2 linked regions of the Homo sapiens genome follow. The protein of the gene in region 1 purifies or fractionates together with the protein of each later gene. This does not show direct contact. Each region holds a gene or a part of one and is shown on either strand. Other genes may lie near its edges.

What was found.
Region 2: the proteins of GTSF1L (region 1) and THUMPD3 purify together in Homo sapiens (affinity purification with mass spectrometry; one large-scale study listed by BioGRID and IntAct). This does not show direct contact.

Annotation. Positions count from the first base shown.
Region 1 is NC_000020.11:43,725,456-43,728,422, forward strand, and holds GTSF1L (gametocyte-specific factor 1-like), read right to left. Parts: upstream 1,548-2,967; 5' UTR 1,240-1,547; coding exon 793-1,239; 3' UTR 709-792; downstream 1-708.
Region 2 is NC_000003.12:9,369,527-9,373,357, forward strand, and holds part of THUMPD3 (tRNA (guanine(6)-N(2))-methyltransferase THUMP3), read left to right. Parts: intron 1-1,533; coding exon 1,534-2,010; intron 2,011-3,831. UniProt on the Homo sapiens protein: Catalytic subunit of the THUMPD3-TRM112 methyltransferase complex, that specifically mediates the S-adenosyl-L-methionine-dependent N(2)-methylation of guanosine nucleotide at position 6 (m2G6) in tRNAs.

The sequences.
Region 1 (2,967 bases):
TTCATTTGTTTACATATTATATGTGGCTGCTCTCGTGTTGCAGTGGCAGGGCCGAGTAGTTGCAACACAGACTGTGTGGCTGACAAAGGCTAAGATATTTGCCATCTGGCCTTTTACAGAAACAGTTTGCTGACCTCTGAGCTCAACAGTGTGTCTCAACCTTTCTATATCAGCACAGAAAGAGCTTCCTCACTTTTTTTAAGGCGGCATAATATTTTGTTGTATGGCTGCAGTATAACTTATTTTTAATCAGGCCCTTTTAATGGATATTTAGGTCATTTTTGACTTTTTTTTTTGTTGCTTAAGACAGGATCTCACTATGTTGCCCAGGCTGAACTCAAGCGATCCTCTCGCCTCAGCTCCCAGAGTAACAGGCTACAGCTGTGATTCAACACACCTGGCTCATTTCTAACTCTTTTGCTGCTGCAAATAATGCTGCAGTGAATAAGCTAGTACTTAGCTCATTTTCCACATGTGTGATTATATTTACAGAATGAAGCCTGGAAGTGGAATTGCTCAATCAAAGCCTGTATGCATTGATAATGTTTATAGCTATTGTCAAATTGCCCTCTGTGGAGGTTGTACCAACTGACATTCTCACCAATGTTATGAAAGTGCCCATTTTGCCCTACCTTTGCCAGCAGAGTATTTTAAGCCTTTTGATATTTATCAATCTGCCAGGTTAAAAAAAGAGGTAGCCCAGGGTAGTTTACTTTGCATGTCTTTTATTCTGATGCATTGCACGTTCTTCCATGCATTGATGAGGCGTGTGCTCCTTCCTCAGCTGGCAGTTTACTGTCCTGGTCTGAGGATCTTCTGGGGACTGGTCTCTCTTGCTGACTCTTTCGTGTCATTTTCACAAACAACCTTTTGAGGAAAAAAAGTCTTAAGGACAAACACATGCTGGCAATTAGCGCCATCGACATTCCAGATATCGGGGCTGGGAAGGCAGGGTGAGACCTGCTGGGTGTCATCGTTCTGCTCTGAACTAGGAGGACTGACTTTCAGAGGGTTCTCGGTGTCCTCTTCTTCCACAGCGCTCCTGTTGACACAAACAGCCTCATGTTCCTCCAGATTTTTGATGGGGACCACGTGGCAGGCGTTGTATTTGCAGGTGGCCATCTTTTTGGCTTTCTTGGGGTTCTTTCTCCTGCACGATGCCAGGTGGTACTGGAATCTGCTGAGTGGGATTCGGTGGTGAGGATCATAAGGGCAAATTTCAAAGGCTTCTGGCTCCATGAGAAATTCTTGAAGCAGGGTATCTCACTGCTAGAGTCTAACGGAAATGCTTCTTGTGGAGAAGCCCTTTTGTAAGAAGGATGGAGTTGTCCTCTGCCCAGTTTTGGCCCTTGGGATTCTGTAGGTGACGGTCTTAACTTGTGGTCTGTTCTCTAGGACTGTGAGTGGTGGATTAGAAGAGAGATGAGGAGCTGCCAAAAGCAGCTACACAGAGAACAGAGTTAGCAAATGGCACCCGAGACAGAACTATAGCAGATGCAAGAGCCAAAAACCCACAGCCGCTTGACTCACGGATATACTATGATGTCAAGCTGCAGTCACCGGTGGTCACAATGGGCAGCCTAAGTCATCAGGAAGAGGCTATTGTGCACTGCTTGGGAGGGGTGGATGGCTTTGGGAATGCTGCCATCTAAAATTGCTCATGGATGTATGTTGTGACTTAAGTCTTTTAACTGTACGTATTTGTTTTTTGTTTTTGTTTTTGTTTTATTTGAGACAGAGTCTCGCTCTGTTGCCAGGCTGGAGTACAGTGGTGCGATCTTGGCCCACTGCAATCTCCGCCTCCCAGGTTCAAGTGATTCTCCTGCCTCAGGCTCCCGAGTAGCTGGGATTACAGGCACCTGCCATCATGCCCGGCTAATTTTTTGTATTTTTAGTAGAGACGGGTTTCACCATGTTGGCCAGGCTGGTCTTGAACTCCTGACCTCAGGTGATCCACCCGCCTCAGCCCCCCAAAGTGCTGGGATGATAGGTGTGAGCCCCTGCGCTTTGCCAGGGCTGGTTTTTGGATGTGATTCTCAGGGCCGTCTTTCTTTACCCTTCTGCTCTGCTGAGGCCCACAGCAGCCTAGTCTCCTTGGGTGTGGGGGAAGGGTTTAAATCTATTCATATATCGCAGAAGGTGAAGCCTTTTGGTGTTCAGCTTAACATGGGAAACATTTCCTATAAAACGCCCCATCTTAGGTCGACCCTGCCGTTGTCCCTCACAGAACTGGACCAAAGTCTGAATGGACGCAATTGACACATATCTCAGGGTGTTAGTGGTTTTGGTCCTCTGACATTCTATTTACATGTCTGGTGTTAGGTAGGATTTCTTCTAAAAATTGGCCTGGAGCTCCTTCCCACCCCCCACCCTGTTAAATTGTTTCTCAAGATCTGAGTGACAGTAGAGAAATACCATATTCCTGAATAGGAAGACTCAAAATCATAAATGAATATTCTCTGTAAACTAAATTACATAAATTACATAGTCATCCTAAATTGATACATAAATATAATGCAATTCCAAATAATTTTTGTAGCTTTATGTGCTGATATCTGATAGAGCAAGTCTCTGCTTGTTATTAGTTTTCCCCCCAAAAGCCTTGACTATCTTCAAGGATTTGTTATTCTAGATCATGTGTCAACAAACTATGGGCCCATGATTCAAATCCAGATGGCTATCTGCTTTTGTAAATAAAGTTTTATTGAAGCACAGCCACACCCATTTGTTTATATATTGTCCATTGGCTGCTTTTGAGCTAGATTTGAGTAGTTGCAACAGAATCCAGATGACCTAGAAACCTCTAATGTTTTCTGTCTGGCCCATTATAGAAAAAGCTCACCCATCCTATTCTTGGTGGTGGTTAAGGAAGCTGACTGTATTCAAATTCTACCTCCTGCCACTTACCAGCCATGTGACCTTGGGGAAGGTGTGTGTGTGAGTGTGTGTGTGTGTATGTGTGTGTGT
Region 2 (3,831 bases), on another chromosome or scaffold:
ATGTTGGCACTTCAAAAAAATTTTAGGTTTTGGATTTTGGACTTTGAGATTAGGAATGTTCAACCTATATGTTGGAGATCCTGGCAGTATCATTGCTGGAATTGGCTGCGTATACTCCATTGTTTGGCTGTATAATAATTTAACCAGTCCCATTTTAGGGCATGAGGGTTTTTCACATTCTTTTGCTATTACAGTGGTGCAACAAATACACTATGTAAATTCTTGTACATATTCAAACTGAGTGTCATCTTTGTGTTTATCCCATTGATACTTATTGATAATGACAACTGTTTAGTCTTAGTTTTGTCATGCTCATACTTTTTGTTTTTTCTTAATTTGAAAAATCTTTACATTATGTCTTTACTTTTTTCATATGCCTGTGTTTTCTAATAGTTTGGAAGGTTTATGTGTGTGTGTTCTAGCTGTTACCTTTATAACTACAATTTGATATTATCTACCTTATCTACCATATATACACGGTATTTTTTGAATCCCTGCTAAAAGCAATGATGAAATTGGCATATTTATACTTTTTTCCTTTATTTTTCAGTTATTTTTCTTAGTGTTCACCCTTAAACTTTTAAATATACTTACATTTTATTTATCAGCTTTAACTTCTATCCTTTGACCTCTGGGTGTAAGAGATGAGGGTATCAGTATGCCCATTTACATGCCAGTTTGTAACATTTACCTTCTGCTTTATAATCACAATCCCTACACTTGTTTTCATTTTAGTGATATAATTAAATAGATTATAGGCACATTATTTGTCCTTTTGTTATAATTTGTATCTGTTGAATGGCATGAGTTCAGAAATGTTTGTCTTTCACCTTTATATTTGGCTGATAGTTTGGGTATAAAATTTGGAGTTAGGCTTTCTTTCCTTAAGAATATTGTAGTCAGTGTTCATTCTCTTTTGTAAAAGATTTATTTTTTTAGACAAGATCTTGCTCTGTTGTCTAAGCTGGAGTGCATTGGCGTGATCATAGCTCATTGGAGCCTTGACCTCCCAGGCTCAAGCAGTCCTCCCATCTCAGCTTCCTGAGTAGCTGGGACTACAGGCACGTGCCACCATGCCCAGTTAATTTTTGTATTTTTTTGTGGAGACAGAGTTTTGCCATGTTGCCCAGTCTGGTCTCAAACTCCTAAGTTCAAGTGATCCACTTGCTTCAGCTTCCTAAAGTGCTGGGATTACAGGCATGAGCCACCATATCCAGCCCAGACTTTTTTTCTTGTCATTATTTCCCAAACAATACAGTATAACAACTATTTCCATAGCATTTACATTGTATCAGGTATCATAGGTAAGATAGAGATGATTTAAGTTACTCTTGAGAGGATGTGTGTAGGTCATATGTAGACACTATACCATTTTATATGAGGGACTTTTGAGCATCTTTGGGTTTTGGTGTCTTTGGCGGTCCTGGAACCAGTGTCCCCCACGGATACCAACTGTCCATAAGCAAAGTAGAGGTTTATTTGTTTGATTATAGTGGTGAGAAATGAATGAATTTCTTTCTCTGTCCTTTACAGGAAGAAGTTCTAAAGGATTTTGAAGACTTGGCTGGAAAACTCCCATGGTCAAACCCCTTAAAAGTGTGGAAAATTAATGCCAGTTTTAAAAAGAAAAAAGCAAAGCGCAAAAAGATAAATCAGAATTCAAGTAAAGAGAAGATTAATAATGGACAAGAAGTCAAAATCGATCAGAGAAATGTTAAAAAAGAGTTCACTAGCCATGCTTTAGATTCTCATATCTTAGATTATTATGAAAATCCAGCCATCAAAGAGGATGTATCAACATTAATAGGTGATGATTTGGCATCTTGCAAAGATGAGACTGATGAAAGCTCAAAAGAAGAAACTGAGCCTCAAGTGCTGAAGTTTAGAGTCACATGCAACAGGGCAGGAGAGAAACATTGCTTTACCTCAAATGAGGCTGCAAGAGATTTTGGGGGTGCTGTTCAAGATTATTTTAAGTGGAAGGCCGACATGACCAACTTTGATGTGGAGGTAGGTATAGGCTCTGACTGTGGTGATTGAAGAATGCTGTCACAGATTTGTAGAATTTCCAGACTAACCCAATGTTATGCACAATTAAACTGAGGAAATAGTAGGGTGTGGTTAAGAAGAGCATAGGCTATGGAGACAGATTTAGATCCAAATTTTAACTCCACAACTGTATAACTTTGGACTAGATAGTCTCTGAGCCTCTGTTTCAAATGGAGCCAATAATATTATGTACCTTTAAGGTTATCCTGAAGGATAAATGAGGTACATTTAAAATATTTGGTGCAATACCTTGCATACACTAAGTGCTCCATAGATGGAAGCCATCAAGGTTGAGTTGTCTGTTTTCTTTTTCTTTTTCGAGACAGAGTCTTGCTCTGTCACCCAGGCTAGAGTGCAGTGGTACGATCTCAGCTCACTGCAGCCTCCACCTTCCTGGTTCAAGTGATTCTTGTGCTCAGCCTCCCAAGTAGCTGGGGCTACAGGCACATGCCACCACACCTGGCTAATTTTTGTATTTTTTAATAGACATGGGGTTTCACCCTGTTGGCCAGGCTGGTCTCAAACTCCTGTAGTGATCTGCCTGTCTTGGCCTCCCAAAGTGCTGGGATTATAGCTGCACCTGGCCTGATTTCTAATAGACTACTCTTTTACTATATTATATGGACTTTCATATTATAAAATTCAACCAGAATTAAAATAGTTATTTTGTTTTTGTGTGTCTTGGTTGCAGAGCTTTGCTACTGAAAAAATAAAATAAGGCTGGGCGCAGTGGCTCACGCCTGTAATCCCAGCACTTTGGGAGGGAGGCCGAGGCAGGTGGATCACTTGAGGTCAGGAATTTGAGACCAGCGTGGCCAATATGGTGAAACCCTGTCTCTACTAAAAATACAAAAATTGGCCCGTCATGATGGCACACTCCTGTGGTCCCAGCTACTGGGGAGGCTGAGGCAGGAGAATCACTTGAACCAGGGAGGTGGAGGTTGCAGTGAGCCAAGATCATGCCACTGCACTTCAGCGTGGGTGACAGAGCAAGACTCCATCTCCAAAAAAAAAAAAAGTGCATTTTTTAAACAAACCCTGACCTTCTCAAACCAGGACATCATTGCTAATACTCATCCTAGAGTCAGCTCTCCTCTTTCTTAAATTCTGCTAGATTTCCAAAGCCAGGTACCTCATTTTAGTATATTTACTTTCCTTGGTCTTAATCCTCTTTTATCTGGGTGATTGACATGTGAACCATAGGAACTAAAGTATTTAAGTCTCTGACACCTTAAAACATCTCTAGCAGCTGATATATTTACCAAAGAGTCAATTTCCGTTGCTTTTGGGACACTTGAATCTGGGGCAAGTCACTGATTCTAACTTTTTTGTGCATGTCAAATCAGGAGTCTAATTCCCCATTCCTTTTTTTCCTCATACACTGCCTTGCAAATGAATACGTGGCTCACACCTGTAATTCCAGTACTTTGGGAGGCCTTGGCAGGCAGATCGCTTGAGCCCAAGAATTTGAGACCAGCCTGGGCAAAATAGTGAGACCCTGTCTCCACTAAAAATAAAATAAATATTTTAAAAAATAAAATGAATAGGTTAACCAGAACAGTGATGTCTAAAAGTTAGCAAGGTGATTCAGAGGAGTTTCTGGAGCCGTGCTGCATTGGTTTAAATCCCAGAGGAGGCTGGGTGTGGTGACACACACCTGTAATCCCAGCACTTTGGGAGGTCAAGATTGGAGGATTGTTTCAGGCCAGGAGTTCTAGACCAGCCTAGGCGACATAGGGAGACCCTGTCTCTACAAAAAATAAAAAAAAAATTAGCTGAGTA